Regions from separate parts of the Homo sapiens genome. Here region 2 is linked to region 1. Evidence: fine-mapped expression QTL. Tissue or cell type: whole blood. Region 1 holds a variant in brackets; the other region holds the start of a gene. All regions are shown on one strand. Distances are between the middles of the regions.

What was found. PIP is the estimated chance that this variant, and not a neighbour inherited with it, causes the effect.
Region 2: it holds the start of BMP2K, and the variant in region 1 is fine-mapped to the expression of BMP2K in whole blood (TOPMed, PIP above 0.99). The same link has a PIP of 0.9 or more in blood mononuclear cells.

What each region holds. Positions count from the first base shown.
Region 1 is chr4:78,653,252-78,661,359 of GRCh38, reverse strand. The region is part of intron 1 of LINC01094 (long intergenic non-protein coding RNA 1094); the gene reads right to left. Among named protein-coding and RNA genes, the nearest start is that of LINC01094, 11 kb to the right of the region's middle. The variant A/G (reference allele first, on the strand shown) is at 4,263.
Region 2 is chr4:78,772,102-78,780,209 of GRCh38, reverse strand. It overlaps BMP2K (BMP2 inducible kinase), which reads right to left and starts at 3,860. Exons shown (of 16, transcript NM_198892.2): 1 at 3,489-3,860. The coding sequence starts at 3,666. BMP2K-DT (BMP2K divergent transcript) reads left to right here and starts at 4,240. Exons shown (of 1, transcript NR_186689.1): 1 at 4,240-6,555. RefSeq lists silencers at 2,956-3,156, 3,518-4,187, 4,278-4,527 and enhancers at 2,731-3,361, 3,994-4,624.

The DNA of each region.
Region 1 (8,108 bases):
CTTTTTTCTGTTTTAATATTTGTCTACCCCAAGAGGAGCTGGGCAGAATTCAAAAAATATTTGTCATCTGGGAACAGAAATAAACAAACAGGTCATATGAGAGGTCTTATTTTTTCAGATGCTCTACTGATTATCTCACTTTGTTGACTGATTAATGCCATTCCCCTTGAATAAGTCATTTATATTATCTCAGTTTCTATTCTTATGCTTCCTAAAGTTGACATTGCTAGGATGAGTAAATTCTTATAATAGGTGGGGATTTAGTGAGCACTGATATATTTGACTAAAAAATTTCTTTTATAAAGTGTTTTAAAAATAATTTAAAATTTCAAAAGCTCCTTAGGACATTACCTAGCATTTTAAGGAAAGCCTAGGACACTGATTTTCATTCCCTTCGGAGTTCTTCCAGCTTTAAAATTCTATGAATTTATGAATAGAATAGTTCCCCCTTATCCTTGAAGGATACGTTCCAAGACTTAGTAGATGCCTGAAACTGTGCATAGTACTGAACCCTAGACTGTCTATACTATGTTTTTTCAATCTGATAATCTAGATGGTTGCATCTACAGTGCAGATAACTGGACCAAAAGATGATTCACCTTTGGAAGGGACTGAGCGGAATGCTGTGAGATTTCATCACACTACTCAGAATGGTGCACAATTTAAAACTTATGAGTTGTTAATTTCCAAAATTTTCCCTTAAACATCTTCAGATCGTGGTTGACTGCAGGTAGCTGAAATTATGGAAAGCAAAACCACGGATAAGGGGGGAACTACTGTATATACTTCCTAAGTCTCAGTATGAGATTCTGAATTTGTTTTACAAAGGTTAAATAAATCAGTTAAATATTGACTAGGTAATGCAAATCTATGCAAAAAGCAAAATAATAGTATAATTCTGTGATTATGTAATAATACCTTACACACAATAGGTACTAAAAAACTATTTCTTGATTCTTACCAACTTTCACATTTTCGCATACCAGTTTTCTAACTGTGGAAACTCTATGCAGTAGGATTTTCAAATAGGTGAGTCATTTTATAGCAATATATTTTATAGCTTATACAACTGTAATATGTTTGGAAGGAAATTTATTCCTTTAGTAGGACGAGATCTGTCATTCCTATCATCCTTCACAGGGTCTTCTTGTTTCACTTTATGTGTGTATGGCATTATAAAGGCTTACTGGAGTGCTATTTTTTTCTTCCATTACACAGAAGTCAGATATTAGAAGTGCAAAATCCATAATATTCCTTCCCAGGAATATCCCAAACCAGACAAATAAACAGAAAACCAAAACGCTTTTGCCTTGTTTGACCTTAAGTAATGCTAGTGGGGTTCAACATCTTCTCTAAGGTTCAGGCCCTTGTCTAGTTGGATACAGACCAGGTAATGTCCTCTTTGCTCCAATAAGAGAAAAAGGCATGCTTATTCCTCCTGGTTTTACCACCATTCTCTGTATCTTTCTTAACAATCCCTGCCAATTTGCCCTGTCAATCACCTTCTAAAGCTTGCTGCCTGGTTCACATTTGTGACTCCTGACTTCCAGTAACCTACTGAGTCTACCAGGTACATTCAGACTGGTCTCCCCCTGGACACCCATCATCATCATCACAGTAATAATACCTCCCACCTATTACTATGTGCCAGGTAGGCAGCATGCATAATGTGCACTATCTCAATTAAACCTTACAACAACCCTATGAGGCTAATACTGTTATTCATTGCTTCAGGTTACTAAGAAAGCACATAGCAAATAAGTGGTAGAGGCAGGACTTGAACCCAGGAAGTCTCCCAAATACTATTCTCCATCTCCTCTCAACTCTTGCTCAAATGGAGAACTGAATAGGAGCCACTTGGGTAACAGCCAAGCTCCCTAACCATATGGCATTGTTCCCATCTGTGGAAGGGCATAGGTCCAGCTGCATAGAATGATGTTGCCTTCTGACAGTCTTCTCTTAACTATCTTAGTGGCAAGAGGCTTTATTCATTTTCTTTGTACTCAAAATTAGCTTTTACTTTTTATCCACACACAACGCCACAGATAGCCCAGATTGAATTCATTATGGGCTATCATGTCCCCTGTCATTTGTTTATAAGAAGAGCTCTGGCCTGGCCTTAGCAACTTTTAGGTGAAGCCATCTTAAAAAAAGTCAAGAGCCACAGAAATAGAGTTCCAAAAATGACAAACATTGCAAGCATTCATTTTATACCCACACAATCTTTATTTTCCAATTTCTGTTAGTTGAAAACAAGAACAGTAAGAGAGCTCAGAAGAGAGTGGATCTTTAGAAATACTTCCAACTATCTATAGCCAAAAGCCAAACATACTCCTACATCCTTATTTCATGCAAACTAGATAATATAAAAAAGACTTGGAAAATGCTTTATAGCTGTGTGTAAGCTAAAAAAGCTACATAATCACACACAAATGAATGGGAGATATGAGTAGCAAATACAGGGCCTATGTTCTTTACCATAGAAATCGAAAGGATAAAAGACTAAAGTGTGGATTCAATTAAGAACTTAGTGGTGCCTTTTAAGAGGTGGCATTTTCCAGTATGTATCTCAGGCAGTCTAAAGAGTGATACCACAGAGCAAATGAAAGTCTCTAAGGGGAACTATTCTGTCTTGTGGTGAAAGTCAAGGCAAGGTGAGAGATAGAAGTAGATTTGTGGGCCAGGTGCAGTGGCTCACGCCTGTAATCCCAGCACTCTGGGAGGCCAAGGCGGGCAGATCACCTGAGGTCAGGAGTTCGAGACCAGCCTGGCCAACATGGTGAAACCACGTCTCTACTAAAAATACAGGAATTAGCTGGGCATGGTGGCAGGCACCTGTAATCCCAGCTACTCGGGAGGCTGAGGCAGGATAATCACTTGAACCCAGGAGGCGGAGGTTGCAGTGAGCCGAGATGGTGCCATTGCACTCTAGCCTGGGGTACAAGAGCAAGATTTCATCTCAAAAAAAAAAAAAAAAAAAAAAGTAGATTTATGGTTGCCAGGGTTCAGGTCAGAAATATTGTAAAGTAAGAGGGACCTTCTCACTTGATGAGAGCAAAAGTCTTAGCTTGGTAGGAAAGGAACTATCTAGCTCCTGTCTGAGTGACAGAAACAGGAAGGAAGAGTGAGCAATACCCCTCTCTGTATTGCATTTGGCCTGTTAGGAAACCACGAGATGGGGCATATGATAAACCCAGTCTGCTCCTGTCTCAGTGTTCTCCTCTGGAATCTTGAACCACACAGGAGTTTTCTCAAATGAGCAGACTGTCTGATTCTGGAAACTGATCACCCACCCAAGTACGAGGTTCCAGATGGCAGGGATCTGGTCTGTTTTGTACACAGCTGTATTGTGAGGACCTGGGACATAGTAGGTTCTCAGTGAATATTTATTGAATGAACATTCAAATGCACACGCCACAGAGCCCAATAATTTGAGAGTAGCCCAGAAATATTTGGGACTTGTTTTGCGCTTCACCTAAACAATGATGGCAAAACAAGAAAAAGGAGGAGGAGAAGGAGGAGGATGAGAAGGAGGAAGAGGTCATTGGTCATCTGCTGAGTTATTTTGTTCATATCCAGTTTGTGTTTGTGGCTTCCTTGCAGAAAAGATGCCAGAAGATTGTAAAGGAATAATTGTGTGTTTCTGTGTATGTGTGTGCATGACTATTCTTATTGATGTATGTATATCAAATCATGTTGCTATATCTATGTCTGTGGATGACTTTAATTAACCTTTTTTCAACCCTGCTGAAATGAAAGACTTTTCTAATTCTCCTGATTTAGAAGTAGTTATTTAGAATTATAAGAAGTATGATTAGCTCACAAACGAAAGAGCCCATCTTTGCTAATAATAGTGCTAATAAGAGAAAGGTAATCTGGTAAGGCCAATCCTCTACTCCAGAAATCTCAGGACATCTAAAATTGGGAGTTGGTGGCCATGTAAACAAATTCAAATTACCTTCCAGCAAAAACCTCAAACTACTTGTTTGAGATGGTTTTGGCTGGAAGACGTGAATCCAGATCAAAATCAAAAGCCACAGAAATACTGAAATAGTTGAAACAGAGACACAGTCATTACAGGAAGCTTATGAAGGTTCAAAGGAGGTTAAAAAAAGAAAAAGAAAGAAAAGGAAGAGCTGCAGCAAGAAACGTTTGTGGCATTCATTGCCCATCCCTACTGGAAATGTTGACGATATCCTTTGAAGAGGAAGAGGAAGGAGTTCGAGGTGCAAAACAGGCAGCCTAGACAGTGACAAAACAGG[A/G]AACAGGAGTGCTGATGAAACTGAACTGTGAATTGGGAAGACAGCAACGCATTAAAGCCACAGGGCTGTGAAAGACACTCGAAAAGGACAATGTAAAAGTGGCGAGGGACTCAGAATGAACTATGGATTAAATAAGCATTGACAAATAGATAACGAAGTCTAAATTTTCTTATTGAAATGACCTAAAAACAAACTTAGTCATATTATTATCATTCTAGGAGTATTCTATTGTACTAGAATTGCATTGAATCAAATACTGTTTGAAATAAATGGATAAATTTATTTCTGTTGCTAACATATAGAGATATCTCATAATGGTGTTGGTTAATAGTAATAGGTAACAATTAACACAATGCCCACAATACTTTATAGGTAACATCATTTAATCCTGACAAATATTTTTTTGCTTGTTTTTTTGAGACAGGGTCTCCCTTTGTCACCCAGGCTGGAGTGCAGTAACCTGATCATGGCTCACTGCAGCCTTGATTTTCCAGGCTCAAGAGATCCTCCTGCTTCAGCCTCCTGAGTAGCTCGGACTACATGCATGCCCCACCACACTTGCCTAGTTTTTTTTTTTTATTTTTAGTAGAAACAGGGTCCCACTATGTTGCCCAGACTGGTCTCTAACTCCTGAGCTCAAGTGATCCTCCCGAAGTGCTGGAATTACAGGCATGAACCACTGCATCTGGCCAAAAAATCTTAAAAGGTATATGATATTAACACTTTCAATTTATAGATGAAGTCTCTGAGGTTGTATGATTTGTTAAGGCTCAAGTTACGGGCCAATGTAGAATAGTTTATGACAATAGCTTCCCAGTCTTGACTCCAGAGCCTGGGTTCTCTGTGCCATTTGATCAATACATGACATGACATTCTACTGAGCACACCTCTGGCTCATTTCCATTTCCATTTGCTCTGTTTACCAGAATTGTTGCTATGTCCCTTTGCCAACCTTTGAAGAGAGAGGTAATGGGCAGCAAAATGCCCAGAATTAAGGAACAACCCAAGGAAGATGAAAGAATCCGAGATAATAAGGCCCAACGTCAAGTCAGTTATTACAGATTGTAAAATTCAAGTCCCTCATTAGAGTGAGTAAATTTTTGACCTCTAATTAAAAGTCTTGCTAAAAGAATTTTAGCAGGTTAGTGACAAAATCCTTGGACTAAGAAGAGAATGACCAGTAAGTTATTTTATGTACACTTATTTAATAATATAGCATTACTTTTTGAAGATTACTGTGTTAAGAGTCTAATGTAACAGCCTTATTATAACTTAGAATATTGATTTGAACATCAGCATAAAATAAGGCACCCCTGAATTTTTCCCAACCAAGAAAAATGTCCTTGTACTGTGGCCACAGGACGTGTATCTTTCCCTCCCTCCCTCCCTCCCTCCGTTCCTTCCTTCCTTCCCGTCTTTCTTTTCTTTTCTTTCTTTCTTTTTTTTTTTTTGGAATCTTTCTCTGTCACCCAGGCTGGAGTGCAGTGGCATGATCTTGGCTCACTGCAACCTCCGCCTCCTGGGTTCCAGCAATTCTCGTGACTCAGCCTCCCAAGTAGCTGGGATTACAGGCGCCCACCAATATGCCCAGCTAATTTTTGTATTTTTAGTAGAGACAGGGTTTCACTATGTTGCCCAGGCTGGTCTTGAACTCCTGGCCCCAGGTGATCCATCCACCTCAGCCTTCCAGAGTGCCGAGATAACAGGCGTGAGCCACCGCGCTCGGCCAGCATGTGTATCTTTCTAACGTAACTTACACTCTTGACACAGTAATCTTCAAAAAGACTGTCAGTTCTTTTGGCATTATTATTGCTATTTGACATTACTGTTATTATTCATATAATAACAATAACTTGGTGTGGTTAAGTTCTTTGTCTAAGGTCACATAACATAGTAGATATTTCAAATTTCTCCAAAATATTTCACCCAAAATTCATACTGTTTTCCAGTAAGGTCCAAATTGGATTAAATTTAAGTTTATGTCACTTTAATGCAGTTGTTTTTAAAGAAATAAAAACTTTGCATCAGAATCCAGAGCATATGTTTCTCATTTGGCTGCCATTCCTGCTTTGTGGCATGCAGAGTTCACTTCCCCAATCAGGACAGTTTTGGATGGCTGCTGCTCTTTCATAACCCAGCTGGTTTGTAATCCTCGTTAGGTTAGGGAATGAGCCCCTCAGACACTATTGCTCAGAATTCTTTAAAGTCTTAAGGCAGATTCTCTCTGGGTGCAGTAGCTGACACCCATGATGTGCTCTAACACTTGGGACAGTGGGGTGGAAGGATCACTTGAGCCCAGGAGTTTGAGACCAGCCTGGGAAACATAATCAGACCCCATCTCTAAAAAATAAAGAATAAAAAATTAGCTGGGCATAGTGGTATGCACCAGTAATTCCTGGGGGTCAGGGGTCAGGGGCTGAGGCTGAGGCAGGAAGATCTCTTTAGCCCACGAAGTCAAGTCTGCAGTGAGCTACAATCACACTGGTGCACTCTATCTAGCCTAGATGACAGAGTAAGACCCTGTCACACACACAAAAGGCAAACTCTAAATGAACAGAAAGACCTACATATACTTATATGGATGAAGGCAACACAGAACACCAAGAGGCTTCCACTCAGAGCACAATCATGTTGTTGGGAATTTGAGGGCAGATGTAGAAAGATACACATGCTGTGACCACAGTGCAAGGACACTTTTCTTTGTTGGTAAAAATTCAGGGATGCCTTATTTTATGCTGACGCTCAAATCAATATGCTTACTGGTAAATGCTCCTGGGCTAAGGCTGTTAGAAGATGGAACGCTGCTGTTAGCTTGCTTCCATACAGAATGGATTTCTAGACTTCCATAATTTTATTTGATTTGGATTAATGGGGCTTGAATATATTCATGTGATAAAACAACTGAAAATCATGTTGCTCTTTGTAGGATAAAATGAAATATAAATAGATTGTTAAAAAAATCCAGTTTATAATTTTGTTTTGAATCATATACTATTGTATACTATTATAGGAGAATGATAATATTCTTAAAACCAAAGGAATATGTAAAAGGTATGGAGAAAAATGTGTAATTGAGAACATTCTATCCATTAACATCTTTTTTCTGTAATATTTTGTGTGGAAAAGATAGCTAGTTGCCTAACCTTGATTCTTATCCCAGCAGAATAGCTCTCAAGACAAAAACTACATTTCCTAGTCACCCCTGTGGCTAACTGTGGCCACGTGACTAATCTCTGTCAAAGATATGAAAGCATAATTCCTAGATAAAACGTTTAGAAGGGCTACTTAACACAATTTTACTCAGCTGGGGGTGATACTTTCTGCATCTCCTTCTTATTTTGGCTTGCAATGCAGGTGTGATAACTGGAGCTTCAGCAGCCCAGAGATGACCTTAATAATAAAAGCCATGTGTTAAGATAATAGAGAAAAGAGCCTGGGGGTCCCAGATGATATTATGGAGTGGCCATAGCTAGATAGTTTCTCTTCCAACTCCTTTTATCTGAGAAAAGAAACCCCCAAATTCCAGCTTGCTTTAGGCTTTGGTAGTTTGCTTTTTTTTTTTTTTTAAATGTGCAGCAAAACCTAATCCTGATATATTAGCAATAAAATCCTCTACTCCCAGTCCTAGCATTGAATTTCAGAACCCAAACACCTAAAACTACTGATAATCAGTATAAGAGTATAATTTGAGAACCATGAGTTTGGTTCTTGTCTGTGGATTTTCACTGAAAAAATTATAAAAATAATTATTGAAACTAACTTCTATTTTTATCGTTGTAAGTCTTGCTTTCACTGAAAAAAAGAAAAGAATAGGTAAGTGGCACTGGATCTCATTTGCATTTTCTT
Region 2 (8,108 bases), 120 kb before region 1:
TTGTACCAAGGACATTTAGGGAAAACAATGTCCCCTACTCAAAAACCAACTTATTATCAATCAGTATTAAATTCCTCAGACTAGCACCAAAGGCTTGTTATGGTGATGCATGTGGTCAACAAGCCAACCCCAGGTTTTAGTAAAAACTTGGAAGGTTACATTGAATTAATTATATGAGCCTGACAATTTGTCACTGTTTGAAGCTAAAACCAACATACCGCTCTCCCTCATTTCTACAGACCAAAGCTGGGATCTGCTTAGTACAGACTCCTAAACATGTTTTTGAGAAAAAAAACATGAACTGCCTCACTATGTTATCAGTCCTTTAAACTTTGAGGAGGAACTAAAAAGGTGCAAGTTCTATTTTCAAACACTTATGTGCTTGACTACAAAGACATTATGATACAAAGTATATAATGTTTCAGAGAGAAAACTTTAACAGTTTAGTTATAACATACAACCTACCCCTGAGAATCTGCTTTTCAAATTATAGACATAATATGTGCATATACATATCTACCTATAACAAAGGTTGCTCCTCATTAGTTGAGGATACTATATTTACAAATTCATCTACTCACTAACATTTATTTGTATCCCCAAAATCATTACTCATAGCACTTCCACTGTCATTGCAGACATGTGCACAATGGTGAAAAATGTGAGTCTACTGACGTGCACATTCTAGTTTCAGCTTACATAGTGTAAACAAGTGTCCTTTTCATGGTCTATTTAGTGCCATGTTTTTCTCATTTTTGTGCTTGCTATTGGTGATTTCACTGTTGAAAACAGTCCCTAAGCGTAGTGCTAAAGTGCTGTCTAGTGTTCAAGGAGCAAAGACTACAGAGAAAATACAAGTGTGAGATAATCTTCATTGAGGCATGATTTACAGAGCTGTTGGCCATGATTTCAATGTTAATAAATCAACCAAATATATTAAATAAGGTGTATTTAAACTGCAACAGACATAAAACAAGGTTGTATCTTGATCAGTTGACAAAAATGTTGTGAACAGCAGCTTTCAGGAATCTAACACCATAGTAGGAGCAGTGGTTCAGTGTTTGCTAATCCAGTTTTCACGGTGACTTTTTGCAACATAACTAATTATATAAAAATAACAACAGAGAGACGGACGGATTTATTAAAAAGACACTGCAGAGGTCATTATGAGTAAACTACCAATGTTTGCAGGAGCATGGCAAAAACACTTCAGGGCACAGTATCTACTGAGTCTTCCTGGCTCTGTTTAAACAACTTTGGGCCAAAACAAAAAATGCAAAATCTACCAAGTCTGTGCTTTGGTCTATCTTAGCTTCTACCGCTTTGCCTACTCAGTGGTATCCCTCTCCCCAAATCAAGTACTCTAAACTTGAATGCATTTTCACAAGTACATGACCCAATCTTATGATCAGGCAGACCCATCAATTATTGATTAATCACGCTTAAATGCGAACTAGACTTGTGCTTAAACATCTTGTCTAAATTGTGGCACTATTTATTAGGAAGGGAGAGGGGATATTAAGCATCTGAAATAAGACCGGCCAGGATCAAAATTAAACTGATTATACATAGACAATTCCAGTTGTGTGGGTGATGGAGACAGAAAAAATACACAAGGAAAGAAAACCTAGGCCTTGGCCTCCCTTCTAGGAAATTAAAGCTGGGGTGTAGGATGGAGAAGTTTCATCTTCTAAAAGGATTTCTTCAGTCCTTGCTTCCTCCTAGCATTTGATTATTGACTTTTCAAGAGAAATGATACATTTATGGCAAAAGTCAGTGGAACACTCTAACAGTGACATTAGCGCTTGAAATAAACTTTTATTCTTCGTTGTGGTTGAACGAACTCTCCTTTTGAAATTCATCTTTATTACTTTCCAAAATTATTTTTTTATTGAAAATGGCTTGCTTAGGGTAGTGATAAGATATGCTTAGGGTAGTGAGTAATACAAGTTACAAATTCAAAATCTAATTTGTGAAATGTCAGTATTTTTTTTCTATTAAATAAAAGACCCATCTGGGATTTAGTGGAATGAGTGAGTGTAACACTACTCAAGCTACATTTCAATTAGTTACTAAAACAATTCAAAGACAGAATATGGCATTTGAGTGAAGAGCCATGTGCTTTTAAAACCTACAACACAATCTAAACCAATAATTGAAATTCATGTGTAATAAAGAGCTAGAAAACTTTATAGTATAGTAAATCTTTTATAAAGACCACTCACCACATATTCATTCTTCTGAAAAACTAAGGATCCTCCTTCTCCCACCTCTCCAAGTTTCGGCTAAGATCATTATTCTGAGCAATGGTTCACGAAACAATGATATGTACACTTGAATAATTCACGATTTCTTTCTCTTTCAAATATTTTATACAAAAATCTTCAGGTTTTTTCCCTTGTGCTAATTTACTGTTGTGTATAGCATTTCAAAAAATACAAGCGGAATCTCAGTCTACTGTTTTCAAACCACATCAACGTCTAACGCTCGGAGAACTGAATCCACTCTTCGATTTTTTTTATCTTAACCATAGAACTTAAAAGGGCCATTTATCAACAAAAAGTATTTCTTTTAAAGTGTTTATTTTGTAGTATCATTTTGCAACTAAAAACTCAAAGGCCAATGAAGCATGCAGCACACAGGGCAAGTATTTTCTACAAGGCAATTATGCCAGAAATACAAAACTAAATTCTAAGTTCTTCTTTTAAAATGGAGTAAACTTTTTTTGTAAGTAGACTTCTACCTGCCGTCATAACCTGTTCCAGATCATGAAGGACCGACCACAAAACCTCGTTAAGTGAAAGTTAACCTGCTTTTATATCACCTTTTAAACTACTATCAAAGAGACATACTGGGAGGGCATGAATAGCACCTTGTCCAACAGAGAAGATTCTAAATAACAAAGATAAATGGGCTCCAAGTTTACCTGCTCCTCAGTGCAACCTACTAACTGAATTTAGAGCAAAGGATCACCTCCAACACGCACACATGCACACAAATACATTGTTTTTCAACAGATGACTGAGCTGCAGCAAAGCCCAGCTTGACACCAGGGGCTGCAGGGTCCTATGCCCTGCAGCGCGGGTGGAGGCTTAGATGAAAAGGCCAACGCATGACACCCGTCTGAGCCACAGCTGGCAGAACGGAGCTTCAACCCTGTTCGATCTGACCCTCTAATGAGTCACTGGCCCAATCGTAACACCAACCCACTTCCTAGCCCGTCTACTACCTATTTTCTCGCGTCAAAAAGCACAGAAAATGATTTAAACTAGGCATGAGAGAACTGTGCACCGGCCGGGGCAGCCAGCGGCAAGAAAAGCCAGCTTAAGAGAGAAAGCCCGAGCCACTCTTTAGGAGCCCCCGCTGGCCCGGCAGCAGAGGAAGAATGGGGTATAAGAGTCAGTCCGGAGGGCGAGGACCCGGAGAAGCCGCCGCCACACCCCAACCCTCCCTCACCTGCCTGTCCGAGCCTCCCCGGGCGCCCGTACCTTCGGCCAGCGACTCTTCCAGGGTGACCTGGTGGCGGCCGACCGCGAACACCCGGACCCCCACGGACGAGCCGCCGGAGCCGCAGCCGGCCCCGGCCCCGGCCCCGCCAGCCCCGCCACCCGCCGCTCCGCCGCCGCTGCCGCCCTCCGACTTGGGCATCCGAGAGAACTTCTTCATGGTCCCGCCGGCGAGCTGGAGGGCGCAGGGAGCGTGCAAGGGCAAGTCCCCGGCCCGGCGCGCAGCCGGGCGTCCGCGAGGGGTCGCCGCCCCTGGCCCGTCCGAGCGTGCTGCGGCCCGCCAAGCCTCACATTCCGCGCTCCCCAAGCGCACAGCCTGGGCCCCGCCGCCCGCTCCGCGGCTCCGCTGCAGCTGCCCGGCTCCCGCAGAGGGCGGTGGGGAGGGCGGGGACGGGGCGGGGCGCGAGGGGGCGGGTCCGAATCCAGGGGCGACGCCGCCGCCTCCGCCAGTGCCCCGGGCGTCCCGCCGCCTCACTAAGCGCCTGGAGCGCGAGCCGGGGTAGAGGAAGAGAGCGAAAGAGGCTGGGCGGCCGGCCCCTCCAGGGAGTGGGCTAGACGTCTCAGGCCACAAACCCGCAGGACCGCAGCCCGTCGCGCCGCCGCCGCCCCGGCCGAACCCGCGCCGCCCGCCACTCGTGGCCGTTGGCGGGGGGGGGGGGGGGGCGCTGCTGCCAACCGCTCACTGAGGCCGGGCGACCCGCGCAGGCGCGCTGCCCGCGCCGCCGGAAGTGACGGTTCCGGCTCTTGTCACGTGGAGGGGGACCAAGGGAGGTGATTGTGGGGGTTGGGGACTAGGGCAAAGTCGGGGGTCCCGGGTCCGGGGTTGCGCCGGGAGGGTACTGGCCAGGCCCGACTTCAAGCAGGGAGGTGGCCCGGGACTGGCTCCCGCGCTGGTCACGCACCGGGGTCCGTCATCTCGACCGGGAGTCGCTGTGCCACTCTAGGGGCTTAAAAATGCCGCCAACAACTTTACCCCTGCTGAGGAACTTCTCGCTTCGTTTCTTAGCCAGTTTTCCAGGCCTTCTCCCTTGAGAGTCTCCTTCCGCTCGCCCACCCTGAGCGTAGGAGGTGGGAGCAGGACGGAACTGGAGTGGATTCCAGTAACTGGACTTCTAAACCGGCTCGGTGTCGTCGCGCTCTGTAGCGGACGCTTGTGCTGGGAAGCGTTTTGCAGTTTATAAATTACTTAGGAGTACTTTAAACATCTCACGCCTGCTGTACCACAGCCATGTGGGGGTATTCAGAACAGGTATTAAGGTCGTTTTGCAGACCATTCATCACTCTTGGCTAAAAGAACTTAACGGAGTCGCCCAAGGTCACACAGCTGGCTCGTGGTAATTGGGGACCATTCTTTGATTCATAATTTTGTGCTTTTGGCCACCCTGAAAAAGTAAGGTCAGATCGTTGAAAAACGGGCAGATTTAAGGCTGTTTGGAAGCAAAAGCGACCACTGCGTTCCCCTCAAATCAAAGAGATTTGCACCCCCTACCAAAAAAAAAAAAAAAAAAAAAAGCCCTGTTGTATCAATTTCATAAACTGCAGGAGTCTCCCGACTGCAGGGTGAAGCAACAAAATAAATATGGGTGTAAAACATTCAGGAGTGGTAGGGAATGGCAAACTGTAGAGCCTGTGTAAAGAGAGCAGCCAATTCTCAGCTCCAGCCTACTTTTCCACAAAAGAAGATAGGCACACACACTGTGCCCAGAGGTTCCAGTTTCTTAAGAGAACCAAAAACCTGGAACTGTTTTCTAATGTGGCATTTCCCTAATTTTTAAAATATAGATCAAATAAATTGTATCTGCAGGACTCCAGTATGCACCTTCTATGAAAGTAGATGAATGTGGTTCTATCCCCACCCCTATTTCTTTATTCTTTTTAATGAGATAACGGGTAGAAACATTAGAAAATGTGCTTAGACAAAAACTTTGAACTTAAAATCCTTGTTCTTTCTTCCCTGCTATTTGAAGAGAAGCTATTTCTGCCAACACTAAAATAGTGCTCTGGATTTAGGCATTTCTGCTACATAACCCACTAAACTAAAATTCTTCATCCAGAGACCTGACGTTTAAAGTAGATTCCAGCTTAGTGGAAGTGAGATTATATGTCAGATGATTGATGTGGTGTGGCAGTTGGGGATTTCCATTTAGAAACAAGCTGACCACTTTCGTTGCTGTGGGGCTTCATTGTGGAGTCTCATTCCTAAATTTGAATTGTTTTTTAAGCAGAATAATGGAAAGATTAAGTCATTTCATGCAATTCAAAACTGGAGTCAGACAAACATACAAAGTTTGGGCCTGATATAACTTCACCTGATCACAACAAGCCTGCTATAATAAGTTTCAAAGTTAGTTTACGAGGATCACTTGAGGCCAGGAGTTCAAAACCAGCATGGTCAACATAACAAGACCTCATCTCTTTAAAAAAAAAAAAAAAAAAAATTAAAAATTAGCCAGGTATGGTGGTGGTGCACCTGTAATCCCAGCTACTCAGGAGGCTGAGGCAGGAGGATCGCTTGAACCAAGGAGTTCAAGGCTGCAGTGCGCTATGATGGCACTGGTGCACTCCAGGCTGGGTGTCTCTTAAAAACAAACAAAAGTTTGACCAGTCAAAGTGGCTTGCACCTATAATCCCAGCACTTTGGGAAGCCGAGGTGGGTGGATTGCTTGAACTCAGGAGTTCAAGACCAACCTGGGCAATATGGTGAGACCTTCCATCTCTATCAAAAATACAAAAATTAGCTGGGCTTGGTGGGGTGGCGCAGGCCTGTGGTCCCTGCTACTTGGGAAGCTGAGGTGCGTGGATCACTGGAGCCAAGGAAGTCGAGGCTGCAGTGAGCCATGATAGCATCAGCTGCACTCCAGCCTGGACAACAGAGGAAGACACTGTCTCTAAGTAAATAAATAAGTCAATTTACAATTAATGTGGTAAAGATTACTTGTATGTACCAATGTAACTTGACTTTTGATATTGAAATGTATAATTATAATAAATGTATAATTAAATGTGTAATAATGTATAGACCCCCTCTGAAAGACGAGGGTAACACCAAGCAATATGTTCTTTGATTTTTCTCACCAAGCATGTGACAAAATTTGGATATCCTCCCATCTTTATAGTACGTTAACGTCACAATATTCTGTAACACTCAATAACAAACATATAACTTAAAAATGCAAAGACTACTAACAATCAAAAACATTAGAAAGGTGTGGTAGTGCACACCTATGGTCCCAGCTACTCAAGAGGCTTAGGCAGGAGGATCGTTTGAGCCCAGGAGGTTGAGACTGCAGTGAGCTGTGATCACACCACTGCACTCCAGCTTGGGTGACAGAGCAAGACCCTCCCAAAAAAAAGCAAAAATGTTGTAGAGTATTTCCCCTCTTATCCAGGAAGGATACATTCCAAGACTCCCAGTAAATGCCTGAAAGTGAGGATAGTAACCAAACCATCTATATATAATGTTTTTTCCTATATATACATACCTTTGATAAGGTTCAGGGTTTAAGTTAGGTACAGTAAGAGGTTAACAACAATAATAAATTAGAACAATTATAACAATTTCGTGGATGGAAGATTCATTTTTACTGTAGATCTTAGCAACCTCAGCATATGATTTTTTTTAATTAAGTTGAGAACTTCACCTTTTCATTTAAGGAAAGCACTTTATGGCTTCTCCTTGGCATATTCGAATTGCTAGCATCATTATGCTTGCACTTGGAGCCATTAGTAAGTAAAATAAGATTCCTTGAACACAAGCACTGTGACAGTGGATCTGATAACTGGGAAGGCTACTAAGTGACAGGCAGAGAGTATAGACAGATATACTGGGCAAAGGGATGATTCACCTACCAGTCGGGCTACCCAGAACAGCGTGCAATTTAAAATTTACCAATTCATTTTTCTGGAATTTTCCATTTAATATTTTCAGACCATTGTTGACCACAGGTAACTGAAACTGAGGAAAGCGAAACTGTGGGGATGGGGGATTACTATATTACTAATAACAAGAAGGCCAAACATTTACAAACACTTTTATTACCAAAAGATATTAACATCTATTGTTAAATCATATTCTTCTAGCAAATTTGTGAAATAAGAATGTGTAACCTGAAATCAATTTTTAGGCAGAAATTGAGATATTAAGGGCAGACTGTAACCAGCAGAAAAACTATATTGAAATTTCTAGTCTTTCAGATTTCTTTGAGAAAATCTTATAGCCATATATTAATTTCTCACTCCTGCACCTTAAATTTATTTACTGGCTTATAGTAGATTAAGTATTGTAAAGACTTTCATTTTAATGACTCATGCAATTCTTGGACATAAAATACTCTTCATGAGTTAAAAACCTTTGTAATGCACTAGCTAGTGTTTAGAACAAACTAAAATGCTATGATGTGATCTGAAATTTCAAGAGGTACAAATACAGAAGTCAAATCCCAGACCCCAAAGCAAACTTTTCTATCAACATACAATATTAAACATGTAGTATCTTTCCTAATTAATATTAGACTATTAAAATGTGTGCTTATGATTTTAAGAGGTTCCATACATTTTAACCCTTAGCATTTTTAATGAGTCAACATAGTGAATATTTCTTTA